Homo sapiens: one gene and its partners. The protein of the gene in region 7 purifies or fractionates together with the protein of the main gene of each other region. This does not show direct contact. Each region holds a gene or a part of one and is shown on either strand. Other genes may lie near its edges.

Region 1 (3,500 bases), on a different chromosome or scaffold from region 7:
ATAAGTTAAGCCATGTATATACATTAATACATACATATATGTTCCAATAACATGTTGAAGATTTCCCAGGTTTTTTTTTCTTTAAGTTATTGCTAGACATATCAAAACACAGTATAAAACTGGTCATCACAACACCCTTCTGCAGTAATGATGAGAGTGGGCTAGGAATGTGATGAAAGGCACAGAATTCATAAGACTTGAGTAAGTAGATCCAAATTTGTTATCACTAATGGCTCAAACAATGTGGAGCCACTGATTTTCTGAAGTGAATATAAGAAACAGTAGTTAATAGTATTTATCCAGGCTTCTAGTATAAGACATTGTACTAGGAGTTTCTCAAGTAGAAAACTTGTCTCACAAGGGTAAGTTACATAAAAACTCCAAAGAAGAAAGGGCAACTGATAGAAGATTAGTTCTCCTGTGGCTAGACGGTGCGTTGTACAGCCTTTCCGTTTAGTGAGGTTCTACTAAAGGGAATGCCAACTTTGTGGTTGACATGGGTGATCCTTGGGTTTCGTCACGCATGAAATTAACAAATAAAAAATGTTCAAGGCCAGGTGTGGTGGCTGATGCCTGTAATCCCAATGCTTTGGAGTCTGAGGTGGAAGGATTGCTTGAGGCCACAAATTTGAGACCAGCCTGGGCGAAAGAGCGCAACCCTGTCTCTACCAAAAAAAAACAACAACAAAAAACTTAGCTGAGTGTGGTGGTACCAGCCTGTTGGGAGGCTGCAGTGAGAGGACCATTCGAGCCCAGGAATTTGAGGAAGCTATGCTCATACCACTTGCACTCCAAGACCCCATCTCAAAAAAAGAAAGAAAAAAGAAAAAAAAAGTTTTCAGTTTATGGAATTAAGCAATTAAGCATATTAAAAAGCCAGGGCCTAATAAGTACTATGCTGATCAAGTGCAAAGGAGAGTTCTTAATATGAATAAATGGGTCTTACAAGTCAATTAATTCAAGAGGTTATAAAATACATTTTTTAAAAGAGTTAAGCTTATTTTTCATACAAAGAAAAAATTCCAATCACCCATTGACAATACCCCAATCAGCCAACAGCCCATCAATGCAGAGTCTGCTGCAGTTGTCTGGAAGTTTTCACTTTCTTCTTCCAGAAAAAATGCTCAATTTTCATTGCCAACGTTCTTGGTAGATTCACTCTTCACTAGAAAAAAATAAGTAAACATACAGTCAAGTGTTTATATTTTTCTGTTTAGGTTGCTCTGTCCCTCTTCTCTCCCTCCTTCTGATGTACAGCAAAAGCACTGCTCACAGGGACACACAAACCGCGTCATGTCCCAGGCAGCTAGGATATACAATTCTGGCCACAATAAATAGAGAAATGATGTCTGAAAGTGGCAATTATATTTTGTGAGGTAACATCCTTCCTGACTCTGTGGAAGACTTAGGAATGGTCACTTCACAATGTGGTTATGATCCATATTCATGCCACTGAATAGATCACTATTATCCTGGCCAGCCACTTGTGGTTAGAATAAATTTTTTCCATGATTTTTTTTTAAACTTAATTGAGGGTCAGTATATGTTGAGTGAATGTGGAGTGACAGAAGACTAGCTAATCGCCATCTCCTTCCTTTCACAGGAAAGAAGAATAGAAATGGAGCTCCTCTGACACCCCTGTCTTGCTTAGAGCAAGCAAGACTAACTATGACTCACTCACTAAACTGAGAGTTCCTGGAGGACAGAAACTCGACCTTTCTTCTCTGTATCTATCCTCACAATTTAGAGTATGTTTGCTGAATCAATGTAACTGCAAATCATTCTGCCTTTTAGTGTTTTTTCCCTAAATCTGCAAAATGGGAACCGGAGTAAGTGTTCTATTTCATGGTCTTGTGAAGCTAAAAGGAAATAATAGGTAGTAACTCTTTAAAAATTGTCATGCTAAAATATAGGTTATTTTGAGGCTTATAGCTGTTATCTCCACTGAGTAGATAAGAAAAATAAAGCTCAGAGAGGCAGAGCAAATGCTCAAGGGACCACAGCTTATAAAAGCTGATGCTAGAAGCACACACCTGGAACTGCCTCATATTCCAACTGACAAGTTCCCTGGGGTTTGCTGTTGTACCTAGACTTCAGATTGTACCAGCAACCACAATGGTGTTTACTGAGCCCTTTCTAAGAGTAAGGCACTGAAATAAGTTCCATCCAAGATATCATCCCAATCTTTGTGAAATTTTATGAACTTTAGCAGTCCATCCAGTGCCTCCATGATATTAAAAGTTTTTTTCCTTCTCTGGCTGTCTCTGTACTTCAGGTAAACTCTATTTTAGCATCTATTGTATAATAAGTTTTACATGCGTGTTCCAGTGCCAAAAATCCTCCTCTCTCTCCCTGCAAAAGGAAAAGAAAGAAAAGAGAAGTAAGGAAGAATGAGGAAAGGTGAGCGAGGGAGAATGGATGAAAGATTTACTGGCCCAATAAGAGACTGATATATGAGTAGCTGCTATGCCAGGTATTTTCACTAATTCCAGTAATCAATTTTGGGTTGGATTCCTTCTCTAAAGGCTGAGGCATTTTCTAATCTTGAGTTACACTAGAACATCAAAAAGTTTATTTTGCTGACATTTCTAAATTAATAAAGATTTTTAGCAGTATGGGACATTTTCCCCTTTCTTTGCCTATTGAAGGTGCCCAGTTTTCTTCTTTGAATAGGGTTCCATTCTTTTTTCCTTAGATTGAAATGCAGCATGCTTTTCTCCCTCATCTAAATCTGCTAGTCTAATAACAGCCTGTGAAGCAAGTTACACCATTCTGAGCACTTCCCACTGGACTGATATAAGGTAGGTAATCAGCACTTAGCATCTCCAATCTAGTGGAGTATCTAAATAGCTCTATCTTTTCCAGTTAACCTTTTCCATTACTGAAAAGCAACAAACAAACAAAATCTTGGCTACTGCTGATTAATATAGGCAGACTCAAATAATTATGGCAATCTACAATCATAACAAATATTAGAACAACCATCAGGTGTGGGAACTACTGAATCCCAGACCAGAAACACATGTACCCCCAAATTAGGAAAGAGACAACTTGTACTATAAACTCAGGATCAAAATCCAACTTTTTTACCTCCAGAGAGGGAAGGAATTTCAAGGCTTTCCAAAGAAAATGCCCTCTTCTTACATAATCCCCTTCCCTCATCAAGGTATCACCCTGCAAAATATCTGATGCTGTGAGAATGTATAAAGAAACAGACACCTTGAAGTACTTACAGAAAGAAATGCATGTACAGGAAGACCTGGGCATTACTTTTAAGGTGTGTGTACTTACGATGTGACAAAACTGGTATGGTTTTAAAATCCTGTCAGATACTTTTAGTTCTTTGCTAACACAGTTCTAAATAATCCTCTGTACTAAAAGCATGAGTCATTTGTGTTCCTGTAAATAAGTCAAACATCATATATCCACCAGAAAAATAGCAAATTTTACTCAATAAGGCTCCCAGTACGCTAGTAAAGTAGTCTTTTCTTATTGCTTCA
Region 2 (3,500 bases), on a different chromosome or scaffold from region 7:
GGCCTCCCAAAGTGTTGGGATTACAGGCGTGAGCCACCGCGCCAGGCCAGTTTTCTCTTAAAGAAATATATTTATGTCTTTTAAAAAATCTCTATTACTTTAGGTTTTTCTGTTATATACACTCAAACCTAATTCTAGCTGATGCATTCAGTGATCTGGACACATGAAAAATTTTCTAAAAATTAAAGCTGTCCAACAGTGGAAAGAACCCCCTGAGAAAGTATGTAGCACTCACTCCTGACAGGGCATTGTAGAGGGATTCCTAGGCAGCAAGAAAGCTGGACTGCAGTACTTTTAAAGGCCCTCCAGGCAATTAAGATTCTAAGGCTACTACTGGAACAAAGCAGCTTTGGGCTTGCCAAAGCTGTGGCAACTGTGTGCCTCTGAATCTATCCTGTTAAAATCAGTGGGAACATTCCCTTTCTATAATCCATATGCTATCCACCTTCAAGATTCTGTTCAAGAATTATCTCCTCATTTGTGCCTTTTAAGACAAACTAGACCTCTCAACTCCAGCATGCTGGATGTTCTCCCCTCCAGATGATCTCCTCCTCCAGATCCTCCATCCAGCATTTTCCAGCTCGGCTATGTGCCTCCGGATTCCACCCTCTGAATTAAATCAACCAGACTCCTTAACCTCTGGTTTCCAGTTGTATTAGACCAATGGGAGGCTACAGCAGGAGATCAGAGGGTAGCAAAAGAGTTTGAAGTATTTATTCCCCTTGATGCCTTTCCTACTGGGTCACTGGCTGGCATTCCTACAGGTTACCTTCTCCTTCATCTCAACTCTCTCAAAGTTCCAGAAACTACTCCCTTCCTTGCCCTCTCACAGGCTTAAGAGTGTAATCCCAGCTACTTGGGAGGCTGAGGCAGGAGAATCACTTGAACCCAGGAGGCGGAGGTTGCAGTGAGCCGAGATCGAGCCACTGCACTCTAGCCTGGGCGACAGAGCAAGACTTGTCTCAAAAAAAAAAAAAAAGAGAAAAAACAACGTCAGAATAACCAACATGAAAATTTTTTAGGATAACTTGGTGCCTACCTGAAAAATGTATTGTGTTTTAGACTCTTGATTTCAAAAGGTTCCACAGAACTAGTCTGCGCTTACCTTACCCATGTTTATATATAGCTGTCCTACAGGGAGCTTTTATTTAGAAAATGTCTGCATAATGTTAGATTCTTCTCCTGTCTACATTAAGCACTACATAATTGGACTTCATTATGCTTTTGAAATGCTTATCTGCCTGTCACATAAGTTAAACTATTTAATTTGTTTTGAATGTTTTGGATTGCTACATAATACAATATTCTAAATTTAGGCATGAGGGTTTTTTTGTTTTGTTTTTACTTTTTTTTTGTCATCGCACTATGGAACACAAATTAAACTCTCTTAATTTATAAGAAGATAGTTGCAGTTAAATTTTGAAAATGGTTGTAATGAGCCATGAAGTTCAATCTTTGTAATATAGGTATTGCTCTTTCAGACAAATAGTCCATTTTCAATGACTTATTATTTTGTTGAAATTGTGGTCGCTAATCACTTGGTTGCCAAATATTTACTTCAGGAGCAAAGATTTTCAAACAAGCATACATGATGCAAAATACCAATCTGGCTTCTAGTCTCTTTACTGTTTTTGTTTCACTCAGATTAGCTCAGTTTTCTCATCAAAGCAGAATGCTATCTTGTATGTATTTTTTTCATTACAAGACCCATGAGCTGCTTTTATGCTGAAAATGGTCATTTCCCTGTTCACTTACTGACATGTGAAGAAGGGTTTCTTGCTTTCTTAAACATTTCCGTAAGGCAGGCTAGAAATGTAATGCTTCAAATGTTCGATGATTATGGTCTTTTGATAGGAACAGATTCTGCTTGGGATATATATCCAGGCACTCTCTAAGGTCTAGGGTTGATATTAACAAAGGAATGTACTTAGAATAGCAGTACATTTTATGCAAATATGGAAATTATTTTAAGAAACAATGACATATCAAAACTGCTTTTTATTTACATGATTTTGAAATAGACTAGAAAGCTTTCCCTATAGACATATCAATATTCCAATCATAACTTTAATTCAAGAATGCAGTTTTACCAAAAGAAAAATCTGAAAATTTCTATTCAGGCTACTGGAATTGGTTATTAAAAGAAAAAGGAAAAAGAAGAATCTTGCTGCTTTCAGTATTTCCTGATTTTTTTGTAAATATAAAGAGGAACTTCAATTATGAAAAATTTTTAAAAGATATATATATCTATATATCTATATATATGTACTGTTTTGTTTCCTGTCTTGAAGATTTTGAGTTATGGTTATTGGTTTCAGATTGATTAATTCACATATGCTGTGTTTTGAAATGAGATCCCATTAGCTTTTTTTTTTTTTTTTTTTCAATATAAAGTGTTTTCTTTAAAAGTCTGATATTGGTTCGTGGCCTAGTGCCTTGGATTTTACATATTTTTCTTTTTAAATGCAAAACCTTTTCAACAAAATAGTGTTTGTCATCAGGTTGGTACTAAACATTTATAATTACTGTGTAATTATAAACAAAAATACATAAAGCTTTGAATATAATTATGTAGGATAAAAGTTAAGGTTGTTCACTATGATGGCATCTTAGAATTAAACAAAACTTTTACTAGGGCTGAAAAGAGAAGACTGATTTAATGTGGTGTGATTATTCTGAAGATAAATGTCTGGCTACAGGGAATATTTTGTACTAAAAAATGATTACACATATGGCTGTGTGTGTTTGAGTCTGTGTCTGTGAGAGAGCCAGAGAGAGTGAGAGAGATTGACGGAGAAAGGGAGAGACACACACACGCCCCTTGAATTGCTTTAACTCCTAAGTGTTTCAGTCCTCATTCCGGTAAACTCCCCATGCTGATTCTTTGTTTTAAACTGAACCATAGGTACAGTTTCCTTTTTGCCAAATGTCAAAACAGGTACAAATTTTAAAATGTAATGCTTTTTAAATAGAAAAATGTATAAAATTAGAAGTGCCCACATATAAAAAATACTTGAGATGAAGATTATCTTTAGTGAATATCATCTGCATATCTCTGTAAGTTCAATTGTGTTTCTTACAGTCCCTGTCATATTACCAATAGAGGCAATAAAAGCTTCAGTGAAATTGCCATGACAAAAAAAAAAAAAAAAGAGTGATAATGGCTCTCCTATTGCTAGCTAGCCCTTAGATGTTTCACCTAGATGTTTTCCTTAAACCTGCTCAGCCTTGAAAATAGTCCCTTGATCCCTTAGTACGCTGTTGGATTATGCCAAGATATGACTGATATATCCACAAACTACTCGCAGCCTTCACCATTCCATCTTCTCAGAGGGCCCCTATCTCCCCTTCCCCCACAGCATGGTTTTTATCTCAGTAATTGGGTTCTGTACATTTACACATACAGACTGATTCACATCAATTCCCTATGGAAATTCTTAAACCCAGGCTGATTCTCAATTCTGCCACCAATGTGCACAAACTGTATATAATATTAGATT
Region 3 (2,761 bases), on a different chromosome or scaffold from region 7:
TGAGGTGGGTAGATCACGAGGTCAGACCATCCTGGCCAACATGGTGAAACCCCGTCTGTACTAAAAATACAAAATCTAGCTGGGCGTGGCAGTGTGTGCCTGTAATCCCAGCTACTCGGGAGGCTGAGGCAGGAGAATCACTTGAACCCGGGAGGCGGAGGTTGCAGTGAGCCGAGATCACGCCACTGCACTCCAGCCTGGTGACAAAGCTAGACTCCATCTCAAAATAATAATAATAATAATAAACAAACAAGTAATTTATACAGAAAAATCCCTGATATTTATAAGGAATGTATCTTTAGATATGTTATAAATCCTTGAATTATTTATAGAATATAATCTATATTTGTATACTTATAATGTATGTTTATAGAATAAAAATGCATGAAACCATGACTGAAAAATACATACGATTTTGTGACATCATGAATGTAGGAGTAATTTTTCAAGTCAATAAAAGAAATTCTTGTGGCAGCCCTTGTTAAAGCAGTTTCAAAATCTCTTTACGTTTCCATATAGAGCAAATGGAAAACTTGTTCTTGCTATAAATCAAAGTCACCACTGCATTTGAACTGTACTTAGTCTTTCATATTCTGCTTTTTTTTTTTTTTTTTTTTTTTTGAGGCTGGAGTGCAGTGGAGCGATCTCGGCTCACTGCAACCTCCGTCTCCCAGGTTCAAGCGATTCTCCTGCCTCAGCCTCCGAAGTAGCTGGGACTACAGGCGCATGCCACCACGCCAGGCTAATTTTTTGTATTTTTAGTAGAGATGGGGTTTCACTGTGTTAGCCAGGGTGGTCTCGATCTCCTGACTTCATGATCCGCCTGCCTCGGCCTCTCATAGTGCTGGGATTACAGATGTGAGCCACTGTGCCCAGCCCATGTTCTGCTTTTAACTTTATCCTAAATGTCCCACCTCTGGCTTAGATCAGTGCCGCCTTAGATCTCTTTCTCTTCTATCACCTGATTAGCACATGGCTGATTTTTTTTCTTAAACAAAGATTCTTTTTCCCCCCATATCACAGGCATTTGTAAACATAAAACCAAAACCAGAGAGTGCAAAGATGTACGGAGAAGAGCATGGTGTGTTCCTTCAAGAGTGAAAAGTCTTTCTCCTCCATACTAGCCTGGCAGGGAGGAGCAGTCAAATCAGCACTTATTAGTAACCCCTGGACTTTTCAGAATCACTTGGTAATAACTGAAGGGCAAATAAATCCATCAAAGTGATGGGTCTCTAATATTCAAAACTGTAAAAAGTTATTAAATTGCAAGGCTGTTATATTCATAATATTTGTTTATAAGTTGGTTGTTTGATACTTGGTACTCTTTTATTCAAAGATGTAATGTTATAAATGATAATTAGTTCCCAGGCTAGTCCACAAACGGTAGGTCAGATATATAACACTCTAGTAAGGAAAGAGCAGCAGACACCACTGGCAAGAAGCTCCTTGTTAACTTTTGTTTTTGAGACAGGGCATGTGAGGACTCACAAGTGGACACTCGGAAATAAACAAGTAACAGAGTAGCTCACCCCTTATCTTGCTAAGCTACCAGAAGTTTCCAAAAGTAATTGCATATTGCCATGTGCAACAATTGTTATGTCTGAATACTCGAATAATGAGCATCATACTATCTTACGGTGATTTGCTTGGAAGTTTGGATGACTATTTGGAAGAAAAGTCATTTCTGTTTTGCAACAGTAATTCACTCTTTCCACAAAGACTGAGCAACTCTAATACTATCTGCCAGCCTCTGGGGATGGGTGAATATTCTTGGGGAACTGACACTCCAGCCAGTGCTCAGGGCTTGTTTTAATCTGACTCTAAATGCAGTCTTCCTTCCTTGTGTGCACTGCAGAGTGGGGCTGCAGAGCAGAAGGGGCCTAAATTGGGTGGGGCTGTAGTAGAGGTAACATGTACATCCCTGTACAGCCAAGCACACATTTCTTCAGTACAGGTGAAGTCATCTGCTTTGTAACTCATTAAAACTAGGCTATCATAGCCATTTCTTTTCTTGTTTGGTTATTTACAAAAGTAACATATCTATTTGTAATAAGTCAAACAATTCAGAATTGTATAAAGAGAAAAAGATAATCTTCATGCCCCTTTCCAATCTCATCACTCTAAATTAACTAATAGTAAATAATTTGGTTATACAAGGTTTTTCATTCTCCTCCTTTTTTTTTTTAATAGGGAAAAGTTGAAAACAGGAACACAGATGTGGAATGACATGCATTGGACCTTCTATTATCAAAAGGGAATAAGATGCGGAAGAGATAAGACAGAGAAAAAACTGTGAAAGCAAGACTTTCTCATCAGGCTACCCCCTGACTGCTTCTCCTGTGTCATCACTGCTGCTGCTGCTTTTTTTTTTTTTTCTTTTTTGAGACAGAATCTCACTCTGTCAACCAGGCTGGAGTGCAGTGGCACGATCACGGCTCATTGCAACCTCTGCCTCCTGGGCTCAAGTGATTCTCAAACCTCAGTCTTCCAAGTAGCTAGAATTACAGACACGCACCACCACACCCAGCTAATTTTTGTATTTTTACTAGAGACAGGGTTTTGCCATGTCGGCCAGGCTGGTCTCGAACTTCTGACCTCAAGTGATCCATCTGCTTGGGCCTCCCAAAGTGCTGGGATTACAGGCATGAGCCACTGTGCCCAGCCCATCACTGCTTCTTCTAAACCACCTGGTGTGACATCCCCTCCTAAGATGGAAGTGAGGAAAAGGGCACTTGCCTATTCAGAGGACTCCTGCTTTGCC
Region 4 (3,500 bases), on a different chromosome or scaffold from region 7:
TTCGTCAAAGAAAAGGATTTTATATCTAAAAGGAAAACAACTCTATACATAGGTTATATGATATTTTGGTGGAGTTTTTAATCCTAAACCTTAAAAAAAAATGTTTAACTGGAGGTGGTGGCAATCAGGAAAACTCTCCTAAGAAACTGATTTTAAATTGAGTTGTGAAAAATGAACAAGAATTCAGTAGACCTGGGGATAGGGAAGATGGGAGAAATTCTAGAGAGAACAGCATGTACGATGGCCTAGAAGACAAAAAAAAAAGTACAGCTTAGCCTACCTTAGGTATATCTTAAGCCAGTGTTATTCAAACTTGTTAACCACAACCTGTGACACTTTACTGGATGCAGTACACACACCTGTGTGTATGTATACATGTGTGCAAGTACCCATTCCTATCTGACCTGTCACTATCTGAACTCTCACTACTATCAAAACTCTTACTATCCAACTAAGATTCCTAACAGATTCAGATAAATTATTTTTAGGATAGAGCTGGTATCCCTCCTGCAGCAGAGAATGTTGGAGCATTCACATCTGCAACCTTCTCAGGACTGCCCCTGGCCATGGTAGCCCTTTGCTGTTTTCCTTGCTGCTGTCCCTCTCCCAACTACTACAGTAACCAATGACTGAAAAAGGGCATGAAAGCCCAGCTCCCTTGCCTCCAAGGCACAATAAACTGTATGTACCATGTGGTACACCAGAGCTGATTAGGTTAAGACCTGAAACCACATCCTTGCTCAGATTTTTCCCCTCCCGTCTCCTATTTTCCTTACTCTCTTAAGGGTTTTTTTTTTCTTTTCCTAAAGGCAATCTATTAATAAACCACCCAAATTACATGCAGTTCTAGTGACCAGCTCTTACTCTCTAATACTGTGCCCAAATAAAAGGAACCAGGGCTTCTCAGAGAAATAACTAATTGTATGGATTGGCCAGGGTAGGTACAAGATGAAGCAGTGATACCTTGTGTGAGGGAATAAAAAGGAAATGCTCAAAAAAATGGTGAGAGTATATGACAAAGATCCAGAAGCTAGCTTAAAGGGAACTCTGGCCAAATCTGGGGAAATTTGAACACAAAAAATACTTATGTACATTAACAGAGTACAAACGATTGAAAATACAGCAGTTCATGAGTCCTTACCAAAAATACCAATAATAAATTCATAAATCAATGAAAATGAAACAAAGCAATCTCTTGCTTACAGTAAAATGTCAACAACCATCTAGTAAATGTGAAGGGAGTGTGCTGGAGGTAGAAAATCATTATTTTGCAACCATTATGGGAAAGACTGAATCAGGTAAAAAAAAAAAAAAAAAAAATCAATGGACCCCAAATCAAAGAGAAATATTTGATGAGAAGCAAATATTTACAAGGTCTTAACCTTCCCACAGATTAGTTACTAATTGCAAAACAGAGAAAATACGGCAACAAAACAGGGCAAAACCTTGAGTGGGTAATCAAAATTAACATCACCTACGAGAGACAGATACCCATGTACCTCCAGATGGGATACTCTGGAAAGACACATCATGTATGCAGTATGTGGCTGAGATCAAGGTTATTCTTGATCTAAACAAAAGTCAGATCAACACAAAATAAGGAGAGTTCTGTTTGTCACTCCGTTACCTAAAAACTTGCAGTGTCTTCCCATTGTTCTTAGTATAAAATTCAAAATCCTTGAAATGGTTTACAGATCATTTCATGCTTCAAAACTGAAATCCCAACCCCCAACCCACTGCCATGGCACATACTCCTCTTTGATCTCAATTCTTCTTTCTTATTGTCTTTGCTTAAGCCTGTGTTTTTCAAATTTCACAGAGCAACCATCAGAGAGTTGTTAATCCGATGAGACAAAAATAATGTATTTTCTATGGCAAATATGCTTTTAATTTATAAATATACAAAATGTAGATGTTAGGTCTTTTTTTTTTTGTTCTGAGCCACCAACGTAATTTATGTCTAAGAAGATACTCTAGAGATATGGCGGCAATAATAAAATCAAAATTTTTCTTATAGGCCAGGCAGGGTGGCTTATGCCTATAATCCCAGCACTTTGGGAGGCCGAGGTGGGCAGATTACTTGAGCCCAGGAGTTCAAGTGCTCCTGAGCAAGGAGTTCAAGTGCAGCCTAAGCGACATGGTGAAACCCCATCACTAAAAAAAATAAAAAATTTTTCTAATCAACTCCACAACCTTTTACATATTAAACATACAATGCTCAAAAAAGATTCTTCAAGTTTGTTTACATGTCTAACTTAAAATTTTCTAGTAAATGTAAGGGCTAGTACTGTTCCTGTACCCCTAAAGGTAATTTACCTACATTCCCACAGGAACCACTGAAAGAACCCCAACTTGGAGTACTGCAACCCAAATGTTCCAAGAACATCCATAATTAAATCTTCCCAAGACACATATACCTTAAACACCTTCTCATGGAATGTCATGAAATTCTTGAACCCACTTTCCACCCCCTAAGCCCTATCTCTGTCCCATCTTCCTCCTTTTATTAAGTTCCCGGAAAAAAACAGCAATAGAAGGACACAGGGACACACACACACCTGATTAAGGAAACTTCCCTTAGGCTGCCATGCCCCATTCTGCATAAGTAGAGAATGAATCTATGTTGACAGAGGGAAGAGAACCTAACTAAAAAGGGGAAAGGTCAAAGAAGGGAGAAAGGAATTACTTTAGTTGATAGAGAAAGTGAAAAATCAAATTTATCAGGTGCAGGTTCCTATGGGCCATCATCTGAGAATATAATCATGTCTGAAAATTTGTCCGGAACATGGCAATAAGCAAAGATTGCTGTTATTACTGCTACATTAACAAAAAAAAGGAAAATAATGTAAATAAAACTATGTATAAGCATGTAACCTGCATTTTTTCGCTGGGTTCACAGTTTCTTGAGGAAAACAGAGACCCTACAAAGTTAATTAAAAGTTGCTGCCAAATGAAAATCAAGCTTCTATAAAGATCACAGAAAATACAAAATAAACCAATAGGAAAACAGATTTTGCTAAATGAACCTCAATTGGTGTATCTATTATTCACTTACTCAATATGGGCAAATACCATCGTGGGCTGTACAAAGCAGTAAAACATCAAAATGTGAAACTAAGCTTCAACGTATGAACCAAATAAACACGAAATTAAAAAAAAAAAAAAACTGGCTTCCATACATTTTATTCTGGAATTTAAACAGACAAAACAATTTAGGGAAAAAAAAAAAAACCTTCCTACTTGCTGACTCCACTTTTTTACTCTCCATTGCTTCCATTCCTTCCTTTGATGAAGTTTCCAATAATCACATTGTTAGATTTGACCATGACCTTCCACCCAGCTGCTGACGTACAAAAACTGGAATTATCCCTATTTCCTCTTTTTTTTTTTTTTGAGACGAAGTCTCACTCTGTGGCCCAAGCTGGAGTGCAGTGGCGCAACCTCGGCTCACTGCAACCGCTGCCTTCCAGGCTCAAATTCTCATTCCTCAGCCTCCTGAG
Region 5 (3,500 bases), on a different chromosome or scaffold from region 7:
AATAGACAATTATCAAAAGAAGATACACAAATGGCCAACAAACATGAAAAAATGCTCAACATCACTAATGATCAGGGAAATGCAAAGCAAAACCACAATGTGATACCACCTTACTCCTGCAAGAATGGCCATAATCAAAAAATCAAAAAACAGTAGATGTTGGCAGCCAGGCACGGTTGCTCATGCCTGTAATCCCAGCACTTCCGGAGGTTGAGGTGGGCAGATCACCTGAGGTCAGGAGTTCAAGACCAGCCTGGCCAACATGGTGAAACCCCATGTCTACTAAAAATACAAAAATTAGTCGGGCATGGTGGCAGGCACCTGTAATCCCAGCTACTTAAGGAGGCTGAAGCAGGAGAATCACTTGAACCTGGGAAGCGGAGGTTGCAGTGAGCCAAGATTGTGCCACTGCACCCCAGCCTGGGCAACAGAGTGAGCCTTTGACTTAAAAAAAGAAAAAAAGCCGGGCACAGTGGCTCACACCTGTAATCCCAGCACTTTGGGAGGCCGAGATGGGCGGATCACCCGAGGTCGGGAGTTTGAGACCAGCCTGACTAACATGGAGAAACCACGTCTCTACTAAAAATACAAAATTAGCTGGGTATGGTGGCGCATGCCTGTAATCCCAGCTACTCGGGAGGCTGAGGCAGGAGAATCACTTGAACCCGGGAGGCAGAGGTTGCAGTGAGCCGAGATTGCGCCATTGCACTCCAGCCTGGGCAACAAGAGCGAAACTCCATCTCAAAAAAAAAACAATGTTGGCATGGATGTGGTGAACAAGGAACACTTCTATGTCCTGGTGGGAAAGCAAACTAGTATAGCCACTATGGAAAACAGCGTGGAGATTCCTTAAAGAACTAAAAGTAGAACTACCATTTGATCAAGCAATCCCACTACTGGGTATCTACCCAGAGGAAAAGAAGTCATTATACAAAAAAGATACTTTCACACATAATTTTATAGCAGCACAATTCACAACTGCAAAATCATGGAACCAACCCAAATGCCCATCAATCAACGAGTAGATAAAGAAACTGTGGTATATACAGGATGGAATACTATGCAGCCATAAAAAGGAATGGATTAACAGCATTTGCAGTGACCTGGATGAGACTGGAGACTATTATTCTAAGTGAGGTAACTCAGGAATGGAAAACCAAACATCGTATGTTATCACTGATATGCAGGACTAAGTTATGAGGATGCAAAAGCATAAGAATGATACAATGGACTCCGGGTACTTGGGGGGAAGAATGAAAGAGGGGCAAGGGATGAAATACTACAAATATGGTGTAGCGTATATTGCTCGGGTGATAGGTGCACCAAAATCTCACAAATCACCACTAAACTGGCACAGTGGCTCACGCCTGTAATCCCAACACTTTGGGAGGCCGAGGTGGGCAGATTACTTGAGTTCAGGAGTTCAAGACCAACCTGGCCAACGTGGTGAAACCCTGTCTCTACTAAAAATGCAAAAAGTAGCCGGGCATGGTGGCACATGCCTGTAGTTCAGCTACTTGGGAGGCTGAGGAAGGAGGATGGCTTGATCCCAGAAGGTGGAGATTGCAGTGAGCTGAGATAGCACTACTGCACTCCAGCCAGGGTGACAAAGCAAGACTCCGTCTCAAAAAACAAACAAACAAAAAAACTTGCTCATGTAACCAAATACCACTTGTACACCAATAACTTATGGAAAAATTTAAAAAAATTAAAAATAAACATCTAAACATAGAAAAGGAAAAAAAAATTTAAAATAAAAAACAGAAATGTGAAAAAAATAAATAAATCAGGTATGCTATCAGTCAAAAAATAAATAAGTAAACCCACCATTATCAATAATCATTAAACGTAAATAATCTCAGTAACTCAATTAATTTTCTTTTCTTTTTTTTTTTTTTTTTGAGATAGAGTCTCACTCTGTCACCCAGGATGGAGTGCAGTGGCACAATCTCAGCTCACTGCAACCTCCGCCCCCTGGGTTCAAGCAATTCTTGTGGCTCAGCCCCCCAAGCAGCTGGGACTACAGGCACATGCCACCACGCCTGGCTATTTTTTTGTATTTTTAGTAGAGACAGTTTCGCCATGTTGGCCAGGCTGGTTTTGAACTCCTGGCCTCAAGTGATCCACATGCCTTGGCCTCCCAAAGTGCTGGGATTACAGATGTGAGCCACCATGCCTGGCTTCAATAATTCAACTCAAAGACACGAACTGTCTGATTAAACAGCAAGACCCATTTATATGCTGCCTATAAGAAATTCACATTAAATATAAATAAGGGAAAGTAATAGTATTGAAAAACACATACCATGCTAACCCCTTAATCAATAAAGCTGGACTGGCTGCATCAATACCAAAGGACATTTTAGAACAAAAAAAAATTACTAAGGATAAAGGGGGCCATTTCATAACGATAACAAGCCAATTCATTTAGAGGATATAATAATAATCTAATATTTTAATCCATAAAACATGTATTCACATAAACTGATTGTCAGAATACATGAAACAAAAACTAATAGAACTGCAAGTAGAAAACAGTCACTCAAGAAAAAAATAAGTGGCCGGGTGTGGCGGCTCATGCTTGTAATCCCAGAACTTTGGGAGGCCGAGGCGAGCAGATCACGAGGTCAGGAAATTGAGACCATCCTGGTTAACACGGTGAAACCCTGTCTCTACTAAAAATACAAAAAATTAGCCGGGCATGGTGGTGGGCACCTGTAGTCCCAGCTACCTGGGACGCTGGGGCAGGAGAATGGTGTGAACCCAGGAGGCAGAGCTTGCAGTGAGCTGAGATCGCACCACTGCACTCCAGCCTGGGCAACAGACCGAGACTCCATCTCAAAAAAAAAAAAAAAGAAAAAAATAAGTAACACAAATATCTCTAATCTATTAAACAAAGTAAATTTGTAGTCAAAAATCTTCCTACAAAGACAAGTGCAGGCTCAGATGAATTCTACCAAAAATTTAAGTTGGGTATAAAATGTCAATCCTGTATAAATTCTTTCAGAAAACTGAACAGAATACTTCAGAAATCATTCTGAAGCTACATTACTGATTCCAACACCAAAACATTACAAGAAAACTACAACTATCCCATGAACATAAGTTCAAAAATTCTCAACAAAATTTTAGCAAATCAAATCCAACAAAATATAATTAGAATAGTATATTGTGACCAAGTTCAGTTTATCCCAGGAATGTAAGTCTAATTTCATAATTGAAAATCAATGTCATTCACCACATTGGCAGACTAAAAATGAAAAACCACCTATTTCAATATATGCAGTAAAAAAGCATTTGAAAAATATCCAACATCCAACCCTGATAAAACCTCTCAGCAAATGAGAAATCAAAGAGAACTTCCACAACGTGATAAAAAGCACCTACAAAAAACCTACAGCTAAGATCAGACTTAATGGTGAAAGACTAAATGTTTTCCCCAGAAGATCAAACACAAAGCAATAATGCCCACTTTACCACTACAATTCAAAATTCTGCTA
Region 6 (3,170 bases), on a different chromosome or scaffold from region 7:
CTGGCCAGTGGGACACCAAACTGCATCCTACATGGGCAATGGCAGGGTAAGAGCGAGGGGAGGCCCACTCTCCCACCCCGTCCCTGTCCTGGGGCCCCCTGCTCCAGGACGCCTTCCCAGGCTGCCTCAGTGCCCCCAAGCTTGCCCTGGCCCTGCCGTTGACTCAGCCCACAGCTGCTCAGAAGGACGTCACTGGTCATTCCAGAGCAAGGAACTCAGGCCTGGTGGGTGGGGGCTGGGGAGTCACCCATGGTATAGAGAGTGAAACCCAAGCTGCCCCACACCCCCAGAGAATCTCACTGCAGCCCTCACACACCTGTCGAGGGCGTACTGCCGGGCTGTGTGCAAGCAGAACTCCGAAGCTCCAAGCACGCCCCACGCGATGCCGTACCGGGCGTTGTTCAGGCAGCCGAAGGGACCCTGTAGGGTTGAGATGGCGCCTCAGGCCCACCCAAGAGACACCAAGAGGGCCTATGCAGAACCAACTCTGAAGCAGGGAAAGCCTCCTCCCCAGCCACCCCACGCAGGGGGACTCAGGTTGTGGTTCACATCACAGATGGCCCTGGCACTGAAGCTCGGTGCCTGCTCACTCGGTTTGCACACAGTCCCACCCAGCCTGGCATCTGGGTTCGATGCTCAGAGCCAGGAGGCTGACGGATGCCAGAAGATGCACTGTGAGTCAAATGACTGAGCTGGTTCAGGCCCATGTGTCCCGGGCAGAGCCGGGATGAGCGAGACGGTCACCAAATGGGGGCAGTTTTCAGCACGTCAGCGAGTCCGGCTGAGTAAGAATCACCACTGTGTGGGCTCCACAGGCACAGGGAGCCGCGTCCCCAGCACGGAGCCTGCCTGACAAAGCCGCATCCGCAGGTGACCCAACACCCATTCCCAAAGTGGCTGCCACTTACCCCCAGGCTGGATGCACCAGGGAGCACATTCTCCTCTGGCACCTCCACACCGTCCATGATGATCATGCCTGTGGCTGAGGCCCGCAGCGAGAACTTGCCCTGGATCCTGGGGGCCGAGAGACCCCGCATCCCCTTCTCCAGCAGGAAGCCCCGAATGCAGCCATCTTCACACCGAGCCCACACTACAAACAGATCGGCCATAGGCGAGTTCGTGATCCTGGGGATGGAACAGTCGGTGAGGGGTCTGACCAGTGCCCCTTTGCCCCTGTTCACCACCTGCCCACCACCCAGAACCCTTACCAGGTCTTGGTCCCATTGAGGGTGTAGCTCTTGTTGGATGAGTTGTAGTGGGCTCTGGTCTCCATGCTGCTGGGGTCACTTCCGCTGTTGGGCTCTGTGAGCCCGAAGCAGCCCAGGAGCTCCCCCTTGGCTGCAGGCACAAGACAAAGTCACAAGGCTGCCTGGTCCCTGATACATCCCCTTACTCAAAAATTATCCTCGTGGCGGGGTGCAGTGGCTCACGCCTGTCATCCCAGCACTTTAGGAGGCCAAGGCAGGTGGATCAATTGAGGTCAGGAGTTCCAGACCAGCCTGGCCAACATGGTGAAACCCCATCTCTACTTAAAAAAAAAAAAAAAAAAAAATAGCCAGATGTGGTGGTGGGTGCCTGTAATCCCAGCTACTCAGGAGACTGAGGCAGGAGAATCGCTTGAACCCGGGCAGGAGAGGTTGCAGTGAGCCAAGATCATGCCACTGCACTACAGCCTGGGCAACAGAGCAAGACTCCATCTCAAAAAAGAAAAAAAATCCAGCCTGACCAATATGGTGAAACCCCATCTCTACTAAAAATACAAAAAATTAGGCCAGTCGAGGTGGCTCACACATGTAATCTCAGCACTTTGGGAGGCCAAGGCAGATGGATCACTTGAGGTCTGGAGTTCGAGACCAGCCTGGCCAACATAGTGAAACACCATCTCTACTAAAAATACAAAAATTAGCCAGGCACGGGTAGCAAGCACCTGCAATCCCAGCTAATTGGGAGGCCGAGGCACAGGAATTGCTTGAACTGGGGAACCGCAGGTTGCAGTGAGCCAAGATTGTACCACTGCACTTCAGCCTGGGGGACGGAGCGGGACTTTGTCTCAAAAAAAGAAAAAAAAAATTACCCTCGCCCCTGAGTCAGACCTCATAACTAAGTTAGATCTGGCCCTGCTTTCAAGAGACAGGTTACCCCAAAGTCATGATCACAATGCCAAGATGGGGAGGGGGACCCAGGGAATCAGGAAGGAGTTGGCCAAACTGGAAGGGTGTGAGGAGTTAAGCAGGAGGAGGCTGTGGGGAAGAGCAGTGCTGGGAGAGGGAACAGATGTGTAAAGAACTGGTGGTACTTCTGGAGAATTTCAAGTAGCTAAGTCTGGCTGGGAGGATCACATGAGTGGCCAGAGATGAGGTGGAAAGGTCAGCAGAGGCCTGGTCACACAGGGCCTTGTGGGTTTTTTTTTTTTTTTGCGAATCTGATCTTATTTGTTACTCAAAAAATCTTATTTCTGACTGGATTCAGACTTAGAAGTGGAAGCTCGCAGAGAGGACAGTCTGCGTCTCTTCACGATTTGTCCCTGGTGCTTCTTAGCCTCCTTCATTCTCTTGGCCAAAAGTTTAGCATATTCTGCAGCCTCTTCTTTATTTTTCTTAATATGCGGCTGCTTCAGAGCAATACGCCGCTGTTTGTGCTGCAGGACATGTGGAGTGACAAGGCGCTGAATCTTGGGTGCTTTGGTCCTAGGTTTCTTACCTTCTTTGTTTAAGGGCTTTTTTACAACATACTGGCAGACATCATTTTCTTTAGAGAGACTGAAAAGTTTACGGATTCTGCTAGCTGTACTGGGCCCCAGGTGACGAGGCATCATAGTCTCAGTCAGTCCAGGAATACCCTTCTCTCCTTTTTTTTACAATAACCAAGTTGAGAACACTCAGATTGGCATCCACGATGCAACCATGAACTGATCTTCTCTTTCTTTCTCCAGTTCTCCTTGGTCTGTAATAGGAATGCCCCTTACTCAGTAGCAAGTGGACACGGCCATGGGTCAAGACACCCTGTTTCAAGGGGAAACCTTGTTTATTGTTCCCACCACTGATTCCGACCACGTAACCCTTCCATTCTTCACCCAGAGCGTCAACAGCAACTTCTGTGGCCATACGCTTCTCATAAAAAGTACAAAGTTTGCGTTCATCGTCCACTTCAATGAGTTTCTGGCAGCCAGT
Region 7 (3,500 bases):
TACCCTACAAAATGAGGAAAGCTTTATTACACACCAAGCAGAAAACAATAGGAGAGGTATGCTGAGAGTGCAAGGCTTGGAGTTCAAACTTTGGAATAAAAAAGATGCGAATGGCCAGGCGCGGTGGCTCACGCCTGTAATCCCAGCACTTTGGGAGGCCAAGACGGGTGGATCACAAGGTCAGGAGATCAATACCAACCTGGCCAACATGGTGAAACCCCGTCTCTACTAAAAATACAAAAATTAGTTGGGCATGGTGGCATGCACCTGTAGTCCCAGCTACTCGGGAGGCTGAGGCAGGAGAATCTCTTGAACACAGGAGGCGGAGGTCACAGTGGGCCGAGATCTCACCACCGCACTCCAGCCTGGGGACAGAGTGAGACTCCATCTCAAAAAAAAAAAAAAAAAAAAAAAAAGCCAATGAATGCGAGGTGTGCAATGGACCGTGCCTGTAATCCCAGCACTCTGGGAGGCAGAGGTGGGAGGACAGCTCAAGCCCAGGAGTTCAAGCCACCCGAGGAGATCCCATCCCTACAAAAAAAAAAAAAAAAAAAAAAAAAAAAAATCGACAAGGTATGGTGGTGCGTACCTGCGGCCTGTGGTCCCAGCTACTTGGGCAGCTGAGGTAGGAGGATCCCTTGAGCCCAGGAAGTCAAGAGGCTGCAGTGAGCCCAAATCGCGCCACTGCACTCCAGCCTGGGTGACAGAGTAAGACCACCCCCTCCGCCATTCAAAAAAAAAAGAACAGCATATATAGTATATAATCATTTGTGTTAGAAAATGAGGGGGATGAAGGGGAAAAAGAAAATATTTGCTCACATAAAATTTTGCTGGAGAGACACAAGAAACTGCTAACACTAGTAGACGGGGGATAGTAACGGGAGGAAGACACTGCATATAATTTTGAATCTTATGACTTAGTATCTGCTGATAAAATAATAAAATTTAAAACTTTTACTCAAGTATTCTTATACTATTTTTCTATGGCTGGGCGTGGTGACTCACGCCTGTAATCCCAACACTTCGGGAGGTCGAGGAGGGCAGACTGCTTGAGATGAGGAGTTTGAGACCAGCCTGGCCAATGTGGTGAAACCCCACCTCTACTAAAAATACAAAAATTAGCCAGGCATGGTGGCGTGCACCTTTAATCCCAGCTACTCGGGAGGCTGAGCCAGGACAATCACTTAAATCCAGGAGGTGGAGGTTGCAGTGAGCCGAGATCGTGCCACTGCATTCCAACCTGGGTGACACAGTGAGACTCCATCTCAAAAAAAAAAAAAGATTCTTAACACTATTTATCTAATAAAAATGTGAGGAAATATACAGATTAGATTCTATTTCAAACCAGTTTACCTGTTTTGTTTAAAAATGAGCTCAATTTATATACATATACAAATATATGTGATGTGTATACACACACACACACACACATACAAAACACACATTGTTTTTGTTTAGACAGTATCTCACTTTGTCACCCAGACTTCAGTGCAGTGGCACAATCATGGCTTGCTGTTGCTTCCACCTCTGAGGCTTAGGCAACCTCCCACTGCAGCCCCACCCAAGTAGCTGAAATCACAGATGCACCATCATGCCTGGCTAATTTTCTTTTTTGTAGGGAACAGTTTCTCTTATGTTGCCTCCCTGGCTCAAGCCATCCTCACACCTCAGCCTCCCGAGTAGCTGGAACTATAGGCACACACCACCAGACCTGGCTAGTATTTTTGTGTTTTTTTATAGTTTTGTCATATTGCCCAGACTGGTCTCCAATTCATGATCTCAAGCAACCTCCTGCCTTGGCCTCCCAAAGTTCTGGGATTATAGATGTGAGCCATTGCACCCAGCCCCATTCTATTCTCTAGTTCTGTGAGGTCTATAATTTTTCCTAGATTCCACATATAACTGAGATCATATGGTATTTCTTTATGTGTCTGGCTTATTTCACTTTACATACTATCCTCCAGGCTCAACCATGGAATCACAAATGGAGGATTTAATTCTTTTTTATGGCTCAACAGTATTCCATTGTGTGTGTGTGTGTGTGTGTGTGTATACATATATATTTTTTCTTTACCCATTCATCTGTTAATGGATACTATAATAATTACCTTAATTGTGGATAGTTTCACAAATGTATATATATTTCAAAAATACCATGTCTTATGCTCTAAATGTGTGCACTGGCCGGGTGTCGTAGCTCATGCCTGTAATCCCGGCACTTTGGGAGGCCGAGGCAGGTGGATCATCTGAGGTCAGGAGTTCAAGACCAGCCTGGCCAACATGGTAAAACCCTATCTCTACCAAAAAATACAAAAATTAGCCAGGCATGGTGGCAAAGGCCTGTAGTCCCAGCTACACGGGAGGCTGAGGTGGGAGAATCACTTGAACCTGGGAAGCAGAGGTTCCAGTGAGCCAAGATTGCACCACTGCACTCCAGCCTGCGCAACAGAGACTCCATCTCAAAAAAAAAAAAAAGGTGCAGTTTACTGCACATCAATTATATCACAAAAAAGTTGTTAAAAGGGAAGAGATGTGACTTTTCTTACCAACCCCCTTCCTTCTTGTTGCATGGAACAAGGATGTGATAGCTGAAGGTCAAGCAGCCACCGTGAACCATAAGATAACCAGAAGATAAACTATGCACTGAGGAAGGTGGAACAGAAAGAGAATATCCTGAGCCTCTAATGTCACTGTGAAGTTGCTATGAGAGCTGTGGACTGCCTAGACTTCCTGTATGTGTGACAAAAAATAAACTCAAGTTTTTTTTTTTTTTTTTTGAGATGGCGTCTTGCTCTGTTGCCCAGGCTGGAGTGCAGTGGCACGATCTCAAATCACTGCAAGCCCCGCCTCCTGGGTTCACACCATTCTCCTGCCTCAGCCTCCTGAGTAGCTGGGACTACAGGCGCACGCCGCCACACCTGATTTTTGTATTTTTAGTAGAGACGGGGTTTCACCGTGTTAGCCAGGATGGTCTCAATCTCCTGACCTTGTGATCCGCCCACCTCGGCCTCCCAAAGTGCTGGGATTACAGGCGTGAGCCACTGCGCCCGGCCTTAAACTTAAGTTTTTAACCCATTTCTTTGTTGCTATTGCTTTCTATATAGTGTTTTTGTTTTTATGGTGGCCACATATTACTTCAAAAATTAGATTTAAAAAACAAACAAAAAAAATGCTAGGAAGCATGACAATCAGCAAAGTACTGAATTGTTTATAAATGTGGCAAGAGAGTTAAATTCATAATGGATGATTCAAAAGAAAGGGGGTGAGGGGCTGATACCGAGAAAGGTAAAATGATGATAGTTCTAGGCTGGGAGTGATGGCTCACGCCTATAATCCTAGCACTTTAGGAGGCTAAGGTGGGAGGATCACTTGAGCCCAGGAGTTCAAGACCAGCCTGGGCAACAAGTGACAAAAAACACAAAAAATTAGTCAAGCATGGTGGCAAGGGTCTGTATTCCCAACTACTCAGGATGCTAAACTGGGAGGATCACTTGAGGCCA

Evidence for each region.
Region 1: the proteins of BRD8 (region 7) and ZNHIT6 purify together in Homo sapiens (affinity purification with mass spectrometry, with the first as the bait; one large-scale study listed by BioGRID). This does not show direct contact.
Region 2: the proteins of BRD8 (region 7) and SGPL1 purify together in Homo sapiens (affinity purification with mass spectrometry, with the first as the bait; one large-scale study listed by BioGRID). This does not show direct contact.
Region 3: the proteins of BRD8 (region 7) and PKP2 purify together in Homo sapiens (affinity purification with mass spectrometry, with the first as the bait; one large-scale study listed by BioGRID). This does not show direct contact.
Region 4: the proteins of BRD8 (region 7) and CMC1 purify together in Homo sapiens (affinity purification with mass spectrometry, with the first as the bait; one large-scale study listed by BioGRID). This does not show direct contact.
Region 5: the proteins of BRD8 (region 7) and DDX24 purify together in Homo sapiens (affinity purification with mass spectrometry, with the first as the bait; one large-scale study listed by BioGRID). This does not show direct contact.
Region 6: the proteins of BRD8 (region 7) and GCDH purify together in Homo sapiens (affinity purification with mass spectrometry, with the first as the bait; one large-scale study listed by BioGRID). This does not show direct contact.

The regions. Positions count from the first base shown.
Region 1 is NC_000001.11:85,652,934-85,656,433, forward strand, and holds part of ZNHIT6 (box C/D snoRNA protein 1), read right to left. Parts: intron 1,166-3,500; coding exon 1,125-1,165; 3' UTR 1-1,124. UniProt on the Homo sapiens protein: Required for box C/D snoRNAs accumulation involved in snoRNA processing, snoRNA transport to the nucleolus and ribosome biogenesis.
Region 2 is NC_000010.11:70,822,448-70,825,947, reverse strand, and holds part of SGPL1 (sphingosine-1-phosphate lyase 1), read right to left. Parts: intron 1-3,500. UniProt on the Homo sapiens protein: Cleaves phosphorylated sphingoid bases (PSBs), such as sphingosine-1-phosphate, into fatty aldehydes and phosphoethanolamine. Elevates stress-induced ceramide production and apoptosis.
Region 3 is NC_000012.12:32,793,017-32,795,777, forward strand, and holds part of PKP2 (plakophilin-2), read right to left. Parts: intron 1-2,761. UniProt on the Homo sapiens protein: A component of desmosome cell-cell junctions which are required for positive regulation of cellular adhesion.
Region 4 is NC_000003.12:28,244,619-28,248,118, reverse strand, and holds part of CMC1 (COX assembly mitochondrial protein homolog), read right to left. Parts: intron 1-3,500. UniProt on the Homo sapiens protein: Component of the MITRAC (mitochondrial translation regulation assembly intermediate of cytochrome c oxidase complex) complex, that regulates cytochrome c oxidase assembly.
Region 5 is NC_000014.9:94,071,203-94,074,702, forward strand, and holds part of DDX24 (ATP-dependent RNA helicase DDX24), read right to left. Parts: intron 1-3,500. UniProt on the Homo sapiens protein: ATP-dependent RNA helicase that plays a role in various aspects of RNA metabolism including pre-mRNA splicing and is thereby involved in different biological processes such as cell cycle regulation or innate immunity.
Region 6 is NC_000019.10:12,894,160-12,897,329, reverse strand, and holds part of GCDH (glutaryl-CoA dehydrogenase, mitochondrial isoform a precursor), read right to left. Parts: exon of another isoform or gene 2,419-3,170; intron 1,339-2,418; coding exon 1,209-1,338; intron 1,126-1,208; coding exon 909-1,125; intron 421-908; coding exon 317-420; intron 28-316; coding exon 1-27. UniProt on the Homo sapiens protein: Catalyzes the oxidative decarboxylation of glutaryl-CoA to crotonyl-CoA and CO(2) in the degradative pathway of L-lysine, L-hydroxylysine, and L-tryptophan metabolism. It uses electron transfer flavoprotein as its electron acceptor. Isoform Short is inactive.
Region 7 is NC_000005.10:138,172,131-138,175,630, forward strand, and holds part of BRD8 (bromodomain-containing protein 8), read right to left. Parts: intron 5-3,500; coding exon 1-4. UniProt on the Homo sapiens protein: May act as a coactivator during transcriptional activation by hormone-activated nuclear receptors (NR). Isoform 2 stimulates transcriptional activation by AR/DHTR, ESR1/NR3A1, RXRA/NR2B1 and THRB/ERBA2.